Homo sapiens: one gene and its partner. The protein of the gene in region 1 purifies or fractionates together with the protein of each later gene. This does not show direct contact. Each region holds a gene or a part of one and is shown on either strand. Other genes may lie near its edges.

The links.
Region 2: the proteins of FRMD6 (region 1) and PALS1 purify together in Homo sapiens (co-immunoprecipitation; one large-scale study listed by IntAct). This does not show direct contact.

What each region holds. Positions count from the first base shown.
Region 1 is NC_000014.9:51,724,354-51,729,072, forward strand, and holds part of FRMD6 (FERM domain-containing protein 6), read left to right. Parts: intron 1-1,425; coding exon 1,426-1,517; intron 1,518-3,251; coding exon of another isoform or gene 3,252-3,284; exon of another isoform or gene 3,285-3,391; coding exon 3,392-3,676; 3' UTR 3,677-4,719.
Region 2 is NC_000014.9:67,299,649-67,304,708, forward strand, and holds part of PALS1 (protein PALS1), read left to right. Parts: intron 1-1,740; coding exon 1,741-1,818; intron 1,819-2,323; coding exon 2,324-2,470; intron 2,471-2,761; coding exon 2,762-2,923; intron 2,924-3,873; coding exon 3,874-3,951; intron 3,952-5,060. UniProt on the Homo sapiens protein: Plays a role in tight junction biogenesis and in the establishment of cell polarity in epithelial cells.

The DNA of each region.
Region 1 (4,719 bases):
GGAGAATACTCTTTACAGGCATGATAGCTGAGGGCACATTTACCAGGAAATCGAAAAGGAACCATGACAACTTGTTTAAAGGTTTAATGCTCTTTAGAAGATAAAGATCGTTCTAGATCCTCTACTAAAGCCATTTGTACTAACTCCTAAAACATGAGTATCCCCTGAGTTTTTAAAGTGTCTACTTGTAAACCAGTAATGTCTTCATATTTCATGTTTCAATTGAACTAATTATTGAATACTTAATATGTTTATGGCATATGCTAGACACTGAGTCATTATGAGATGTTTCTAAAGAGTTAAGGGATAGAACACAAGTCATTCTGTAGACTACTAGCAGTAGTTGAATAAGAATCACATTACTTAAAGGGTTTTTTGTTTTTTTTTTTTAAGAAGCCATTTGGCCTTATGGATCTAGGGCTTGACCTGTAGTACACTTGCTTCATCCATTGGCAAGAAAAATTTCAGCGGTGTTCACTTACACCTCTAGTTCTTATTGGTAATTTTACCTTCTGAGACATGTTTCTACTCAGTGCTTCACTCATATGCCAGTCACATAGGGAAATGTCAGCCCTGGATTTCTGCTTCTGAAATTTTGGCGGGTTTCCACCGAGTGCTAAAGTGCTTAGGTTAGGTGCTCTGTTGTTCTCAAAGACCCAGTACTGAATTTTCACTGTGGCCTCCCAGTTTGTCTCCTCCCAGGGGGATCTGCTGCAGGAGGTATGTGCCAAGTGTCCCATCACCCAAAAAGAGCTGCTGTGAACTGAGTGTATCCATGTATAGTCCCTGTACCTCACCCTTTTATGCATTCACTGTGTAATTATTAAAACTAGCAGGCAGGTGCTGTTATTGGCCCGATTTTATACGAGAAGGAGACTGAGACACTGGGAGGCTAAGTAACTGGCCAGGACACATGGCTAATTAGTTATCTGGGCCAGGATCCAGCCAGATCTATCTGACTTCAGAGGCCAGAGCCCCCACAATTCACCACTATACATCCAAGCCGAACCAAATCTAGAAGGCATGTGTTCAGTAAGGGTTAAGTTTAATGTTGCTGCTGAATAGAAAGGGGAAGAGGGGAAGCTTTATGAGATGCAGTAAAGAGGCTGCTTTATACCTATAGTCTTTGCTTCTTTTCTATAACTTCATCATAAATAGCTTAATTAGAAGTTTGTTTTAGAAAATTCAGACTAAACATCTTCTTACACTCTAACCCTACTTTGACTCATTAACCTCTATTTACTGTAAGATGAGAGAGAGTGTGTGTGCTGTTCTGGTTGTCTGCCACCAAAGAGTCACAGTGAAACTTTTTGGTAATGGTTAATATTTGATTTTTCATTCCTGATAGCAATATGTCAGAATATATGGCAAGAGGTGTGAATAATTTGAAGTATTTATTGTTTTTATCTCTGTGTTTTATTTCAGGGTTGATTGTGAAAGAAATTGGGTCTTCCACCTCGAGCTCTTCAGAAACAGTTGTTAAGCTTCGTGGCCAGAGTACTGATTCTCTTCCACAGGTATTAAAGGAATTGAAAAATATCAGTTAGGAAACTGAAGTTATAGAAAATTTTAAGTAGTAACTTACATTTATACAAATGAGCAAAAATTAAAAACCCTAAGGAAATGATCCTTCCTAGATACGTACATTCTAGCTTTATTCTGAATTTATTTCCATCTTATTTGCTAGTTCTGCTTATCTTTGAGTTGATTTTTACTTAGATAAGTTATAGATTTTGCTTCACATTTTATATGGTTGGGAAGCCTCTGTTCTTCAGGCTTCAGGCGAACCACGTGTGCACATGCATGTGTCTGTGTGTGTTGCTTGTCCTCAACCTGGGAGAATAATATTTTTTGTCAGTGTGTTCTGGCAGAAATGTTTCCACACTCTGGTTATTCCATTCAGATTGAATTTTCAAAGTATGCTGAGCCTAGAGCATTTGACAACCTGTGATCATTGGTTAAACTATTAAATGTCCAGCAATATAGATAAAATACTCTGAAACTCATGGTTTCAGCATTTGGATGTAATGTATGACTAATGGCCCTAATTCCTGAGCACTTCCTCCCTCCTCCTGCCTTTCTTTCTTGGGCTCTCTTTGTGTCTTGTTTTTTTCCCTTCTGTGTGTGTTTCTCTTTTTTCATTTGCATTCTGGCTCTCCTTGTCCCTACTTTTCTCTTCCTCTTTCCTCCCTTTTTTCTCATTTGTCTTTTCTTTCTCTTACTTGCGTTGAAGTAACCATAATGTGAAAATGATGTTTATGAAATATTTTCCTGAAAACTGCAATGAGTAATCTACTCTTAAGAGATGTTTCTGGGGCACAGCTGATAGTCAGATTCCACACCTACACTATGGGGAGAACTTTGTGTGCCTTCCTTGAGAGTTTGTGGGGATGACCAAATGATTCTATGTGTGAAATCCTGTTGGAGTCTGGGAAGACAGCATCAGCACAAGGGATCACTCGGATGTGACACTTCCTAGTAAAACATGCTTCTGGAACTTTTGCCTCTAGCAAAAATTGTATCTTATTCTAACAGGGTTGTCCTTTGTGGTGGGAAGCAGCAAAATTTAAAGATATAATACCTGGTTTCCTTAAATAACCCATTGCATATCTTCCATTCATATAATTATCAGAATCATTTTTAACCTATTTCTAATACCACCTCTTGGGATAATAAAAAAAAGTCTGCCCCCTGCTGTGTACAGCATTTGGCGGAACCCCCCCACCCCCGACTCGTGTTCGGGAACTTAGTCCTGGTGCCTGCCTCCCAGCCTCTTCAACACCAAGAACACCCTATATCCTACCCAGCACCAAGAACACTTTATATTCAACCCAAGAATTCTGGCCTTTTAAAGAGAAAAACTGTGTTTCTTGGTAATAATTGGTTTATTTTCCTATTTCTTAATAAAATAATAACAGACCTTGGCCTAAAAGGTCTGAATTGCCATATCCTACTGAAAAAAAAAAAGGAAGCCATGTCTTTACCTATATGACCTTATTTCAAGATAATTACTTGATTTCTGAAATGCTAGGGATAGTTGGATTCCTGTTGTATTTGCACCTCTGTGCTTTGGATTATTTGTAAAATGAGGAGAATGATAGTGCCTGCTTCCTAGGACTGTTAGGAAGATTAAATGAGTTAATGCATGCCGAGTATTTAGGTCAGGGCCTGGCACATAGTAATTGCTCGGTAAATGTTAGCTGCTATTATTACTGATGGAGGTGGTGTTGATGATATATTTCCCCATACAGCCCAGAAACCACAGATTGGAAACCACTTTCTAACATGTAAGGATTACTTAACCTTTTGTGGTTCTGTAGCATCTCTCTTTACAAGGCAAATATTCTAACCTTTCACTTTAAAGTTGTTTCATCCTTCCCTTATCTTGCAGACTATATGTCGGAAACCAAAGACCTCCACTGATCGACACAGCTTGAGCCTCGATGACATCAGACTTTACCAGAAAGACTTCCTGCGCATTGCAGGTCTGTGTCAGGACACTGCTCAGAGTTACACCTTTGGATGTGGCCATGAACTGGATGAGGAAGGCCTCTATTGCAACAGTTGCTTGGCCCAGCAGTGCATCAACATCCAAGATGCTTTTCCAGTCAAAAGAACCAGCAAATACTTTTCTCTGGATCTCACTCATGATGAAGTTCCAGAGTTTGTTGTGTAAAGTCCGTCTGTGTGCAGCTGTACAGGCAGCTTACTGTTTGCTAGAGGATGCGAAAGTCATAAGTTCTTTACATATTACTTGTGCCATATCTTCTTCACCCTAAACATAGCTCTTTCTTTATAATATTTGTGATGATGGAAACAAAAGCCTTGGAACAATTGCACTTTAAGTATTACACAGAAGTAAAAGAACTACAGAAAATGTACAGCAAGACAAGTGCCCGGAAGTTCACTGATCCTTCAGAAGGAAATGCGCTTTACTGATTGCAAAGCCTTCAGAATATTGGAGTGTGGTGTGTTTGCTCATCTGATGCTTTTTAGTTCAGTTACATGTAACATCACATTTTTTTATCACGTGAAAGATGTTAGATTTGTTTGCTTATAAATTTTTTACCACTCCCACATAAAATGCTCATAGTTTGGGAGAGGAAAGAGGGAAGATTCTCTCTTCTTTTAACAGAGAGATGATTGCTCTGTATACCCATTGCTTCCTCCCTGAGGCTGTCCCAAAGTGAACACTGATGGAGTGGTCAAAATCATAAGGTTGTAGCAAGCCAAAGATACGTATGTGACAGAAGCACATAAGCAATAAGCAGAAAACCAGAAGTGCATGCTGTGATGCCTGTGACTCCTTCATCCCGCTCAGTGCCATGTCCTCTTTTGTGATCTTCCAGAAAGCTCCAGGATTCATTTGAGTTCCACATCCAAGTAACAGATGAATTATATTCATGTTGTAATGCATTTTGTGGAGTTTACAAAACCAGTGTCTGTTAAAACTTTGGAAAATGTCTTAGAAAACGTTGGTGCTTGGTGATGCTTTATTTGTTTAATTATCAAGAACAAATTATGGCAATGCTAGTTTCTGCTTAACCAAAATACTCTGTGTATATATTATACATATATAAATACATGGGATTGTGTATGTCTATATGTGTTTAAAGCTTACTATGTCTTCATTTTGGCTTCCATGACTATCTTTTATACATGGAATTCCTTAAGATTGAGAATATGTCACTGAGTGAATGATACCTGCAGACAGTCAGT
Region 2 (5,060 bases), about 16 Mb from region 1:
CGTTGTAGAAGTAGCTGATGATATGTGTTGACACTAGAATAAGCAACATATAGGTTAGTAGGGCAGTGGGTAAACACGGGAGTTCTAAATTTCTTTAGAAGGTAAGATCTCAGAGATGTTTAGGAACTGACTTAAAAGTGGGAATAGGGAGAAAATCTCTAATACGGAAAATTATTATTGAGCTGACTCAGTGTATTTTGTATACCCTTGGTACATTTTTAATCCAGAATTATCTTCCCATCCTCAGAGTTTCTTCAGCTGTCAAAAGGTGTATGATCAAGACTACAAATTTCATTTAAAATTAATGTAGACTTAATAAACTTTAAAAGGGAAAATACCCTCTTTTAAAAACAACTTTTAGTTACCCACAGTCTTAAATCCTGGGTCTTAAAGCCTTAAAGCCTTGTCCATTGTAAGATTTTAGTTGAGTTCTTGAAGAAGATAATATTTGCTGTGCCGTCCTGTTTATACATATGGAACTCTACAATTAGAAATATAATTTTCTAAGTACCAAAACCTGAGGACAGACTGGTTTTGGTACTGTCATTGCTTTGATCCACTTGCTGTGGTAAAATTAATTAATCCCAAAATTATCATCTCTTGGGTTTCATAGGAAAATTACTGATAAAATGATTTAAAATAGCCATAAAAGGTATAGAATTACTGGGTTCCTGTATTATGAATTACCTTTTTTTTTTTGAGAAAGTCTCATTCCATCATCCAGGCTGGAATGCAGTGGCGCCATCTCAGCTCACTGCAACCTCTACCTCCTGGGTTCAAGCCATTCTCATGCCTCAGCCTCTTGAGTAGCTGGAATTACAGGCACACGCCACCACGCCTGGCTAATTTTTGTATTTTTAGTAGAGACAGTATTTTGCCATGTTGGCCAGGCTGGTCTCGAACTCCTGACCTCAAGTGATCTGCCTGCTTTGGCTTCCCAAAGTGCTGGGATTACTGGTGTGAGCCATTGTATCTGGCCTGTTTTAAGATTTTCTTAATCAGTCTTTGAAGCACCATAAATAGTAGGTGCCATTCTAAAGATAAGGAAACAGGCTAAAAAAATTTATAACCAAGGGGAGTTTATCCTAGGAAGACAAAGATTTCTCGACTGTGGGAAATTTAATGTAATCCATTATATTATGGTGATTGTTCCATTACACTCATATAAATTCATCTTGTTAGACTGTCAGTCTTTTTTTTTAATTATATAAAAAAATTTATAAAATAGAGACAGGGTCTCACTGTGTTGCCCAGGCTGGTCTCAAACTCCTGGGCTTAAGCAATCCGCTTGCCTCAGCCTCTCAAAGTGCTGGGATTACAGGTGTGAGCCACTGCACCCAGCCTGACTATAACTCTTTAAGTTGTCATCTCTGATTTTAAATAGTCACATAAATGATTTAAAAACTATAAAATAGCAAGGTAACTGTTAGGACAGTTTTTCTTTTCTTATGTAATTATTATTAATGAATTTTATGGTATGTTGGGTGAAACGTTCAAGATGGAAGTATTTTGTCTATAGGCGTAAGTACCAAAATATTATTTAGTGTTTTTTTAATAAGAAATACTGTTGTTTTATCCATAATAACAAGATTGAAAACTCTAATAATTCTTTTTAGTGATTTTATTTCTTACAAGTATTTTTATTATTTTAATTTGTACTTAAAAAATATGACCCTGCATACAGGTGCTACTGATACTTCCTATAATCTAGGAAGAATAATCTTTATTTTTGTTTCTTAGGTACAAACTGTTTTGAAGCCAGTTCATCATAAGGAAGGACAAGAACTAACTGCTTTGCTGAATACTCCACATATTCAGGTAGAAAATGGACAGAATACTATATATGTGGTTTTTCCAGCATTCTTCTATTTTTTTAAATCAAAGACTCCAGTACTGGAAGAGATGTCAAACATTCTCTAGCCTATTTTGATGTTTACAACCCCATCTATAACATAGTAGTTATTGTTGGATTATATATTTTCAGATTTAAAATGAACCAAATTATTTTTGAAACAACTTTTTCTTTAAAAATTAGGCAAAAATTCTTCCCCCCTTTGGTTGTATTTTCTGTAAGTTTAATTATCTAGGGTGTGTAGACCTTTACATTGATGTTATCTTCCGAAGTTTAGTAAGCATTTTAGACTTTCATAACCCATTCCAGAGTATGCCCTTAGTATACTTAACACATCTTTATTATTAGCTCTAATTAATTATAACACTTTTAAAGATTTAATGGTCAGAATACTATGTACATAGGTTAAAAATCACTCTGCAGAAATAAATCATGCTGTTACTTAAAATGCCATGGATTTCTTTGAAACAGGCACTTTTACTGGCCCACGATAAGGTTGCTGAGCAGGAAATGCAGCTAGAGCCCATTACAGATGAGAGAGTTTATGAAAGTATTGGCCAGTATGGAGGAGAAACTGTAAAAATAGTTCGTATAGAAAAGGCTCGTGATATTCCGTTGGTAAGTGTCCCACATACTGTTTTTAAACAAGTGCATTTTTCTGCTGTTGTGTGCTTCAAAAGTCTGGTTAATTTCAGAATTCTAATGAATAGAGTATTTCTGAAGCAGAAAGTGTGGGGGAAATGGTCAACTTTTAAATCTAATTACAATTACTCTAGTTGTGTAAATAAATTTTTTCTTAAGATAACTGAAGGTTAGTATTGTTGAATGGAAAAAATAGAATTTAAAAATAAATGCTTAACAAAAATTGTATTATTTTTATTTTTAAATTATACATATATATATTTTTAGGGTGCTACAGTTCGTAATGAAATGGACTCTGTCATCATTAGCCGGATAGTAAAAGGGGGTGCTGCAGAGAAAAGTGGTCTGTTGCATGAAGGAGATGAAGTTCTAGAGATTAATGGCATTGAAATTCGGGGGAAAGATGTCAATGAGGTTTTTGACTTGTTGGTAAGTTGACGCAGCTAGAAGAATAATTGATAGCTTTTAGAAAGCTCTTATTAGACTTTAGAATAAAATATTTTTAAAATAACTGTTAAGAGCACTAGATGATTTCTAGCCTGATTTTTCCATGATGTAACTGTTCCACAGTATTTGTTAGCAGTTTTATTTTTGGGTGGTACCACTGATATTTTTTTACTTTCTGATGTATCACTATCACATATATTTTATTTTTCTGGAATCAGTAATATAACTCATTAATTCACTCAGTACATATTTATTGAGTGCCTAATATGCACTAGCCACTTGGGAAACAGTAACAAAACAAAGTCTGTGTCCTGATGATTTTTTGTGTTCTTTTATTTTATTATCTGTAATTGATTGTTGTTTTCCTAATAATATTAGATAATAACAGTGCTATAGATCTGCAGTGTCCGGCATAATAATCACTAGCTGCATATAGCTATTTCTGTTTAAATTAAGTAAAATTTAAAATTCAGTTCCTTATTCGCACTAGCTGCATTTCAAGTGCTGAGAAGCAGTATGTAGCTAATGGCTACCATTATTAAGATACAGAAATAGCACATTTCCATCATTGGAGAAAGTTCTATTGGATAGTGCTAGTATAATCAGAAAATCATTTCTAGACATCTTTTGAGTGCAATTTATGATCACTTTGTACACACGCACAGACTAGATTTATGGTCCTAGTTATTCAGCATCTGTTATTACAGTGGAATCTGTACTATCTACTGATTCTGTTGTAAAATCTAGAGACATCTTCACACACTTATTTTCATCCAGCCCCATTCATTGCTTTGGTAGAGCAAAGTGCTGCTGGTCATTTAAGTCTGTGGAGGGGTTCTGAAATAGTCCAGTTTAGGGAATATAGATCATAAAATCATGGAATGATTTTCATAAATGCAAATTTAAAAAATAACCTGATCTTTCTATTACAGTCTGATATGCATGGTACTTTGACTTTTGTCCTGATTCCCAGTCAACAGATCAAGCCGCCTCCTGCCAAGGAAACAGTAGTAAGTGATTTTTAAATGTTCATTATTTATGTGTTTGTGGATGCTGTTTACTTCTGTTACTGTTTACTGTTACAGAAATGTCACTGTTTCCTGTACTCAAATAAATTCAATCATTTTTATTTAAATAAATATGAAATATCAATGTTTTAAATTAGTAAACTCTGCACCTTTTTTTTTGGAAGGTGGAAGATGGAATCTCCATCTGTTGCCCAGGGTAGAGTGCAGTGGTGTGATCTTGGCTCACTGCAACCTATGCCTTCCAGGTTCAAATGATTCTCCCACCTCAGCCTCTTGAGTAGCTGGGATTCCAGGCGCATGCCACCACACCCAGCTGATTTTTGTATTTTTGGTAGAGACAGGGTTTTGCCATGTTGGCCAGGCTGATCTTGAACGCCTGGCTTCATGTGATCTGCCTGCCTCGGCCTCCCAAAGTGCTGGGATTACAGGTGTGAGCCTTCACATCCAGCCAACTCTGCACCTTTTTAAAATAAAAAGTAGAAAATAATTTCAGTTTCAGAATTTTTTTTATAGTTATAGGTGGGTTTACTTAACTTAGTATGGAGTAGGGCAAGTGCTTTTTAAAAAGTATGTGTAACCCTTCTTTTAGAGTATATTGTTCTGTTAGACATTTACTCAGCTAGATCTGTTAAAAGTCAGTCTCCATTACCATACAGTCAAGCAATTGCATTCCAAAGTATATATCCAAAAGGACTGAAAACATATATTCACATAAGAATGTCTACATGAATGTTCATAGCAGCAGCATTCACAGTAGCTAGAAAGTAGTAACAACCCAAATGTCTGTCAGGTGATGAATCAAAGACAAAATATGTATGTATGATGGGATATTATTTGATAATTTTAAAAGCCTACAGTACTGATATATGCTACAACATGGATGAACCTTGAAGAAATTATGCTGAGCGAAGGAAGCCAGTCACAAAAGGCCATATATTGGTTCATTTATATAAAATGTCCAGAATAGGTAAATCCATAGGAGAGAAAGCAGATTAGTAATTCCTTAGATGTGGAGATGAGGATTTATGAGGGAATGGTGATTACTAATCAGTACCAAGTTTCTTTTTGAGGGCATAAGTATGTTTTAAAAT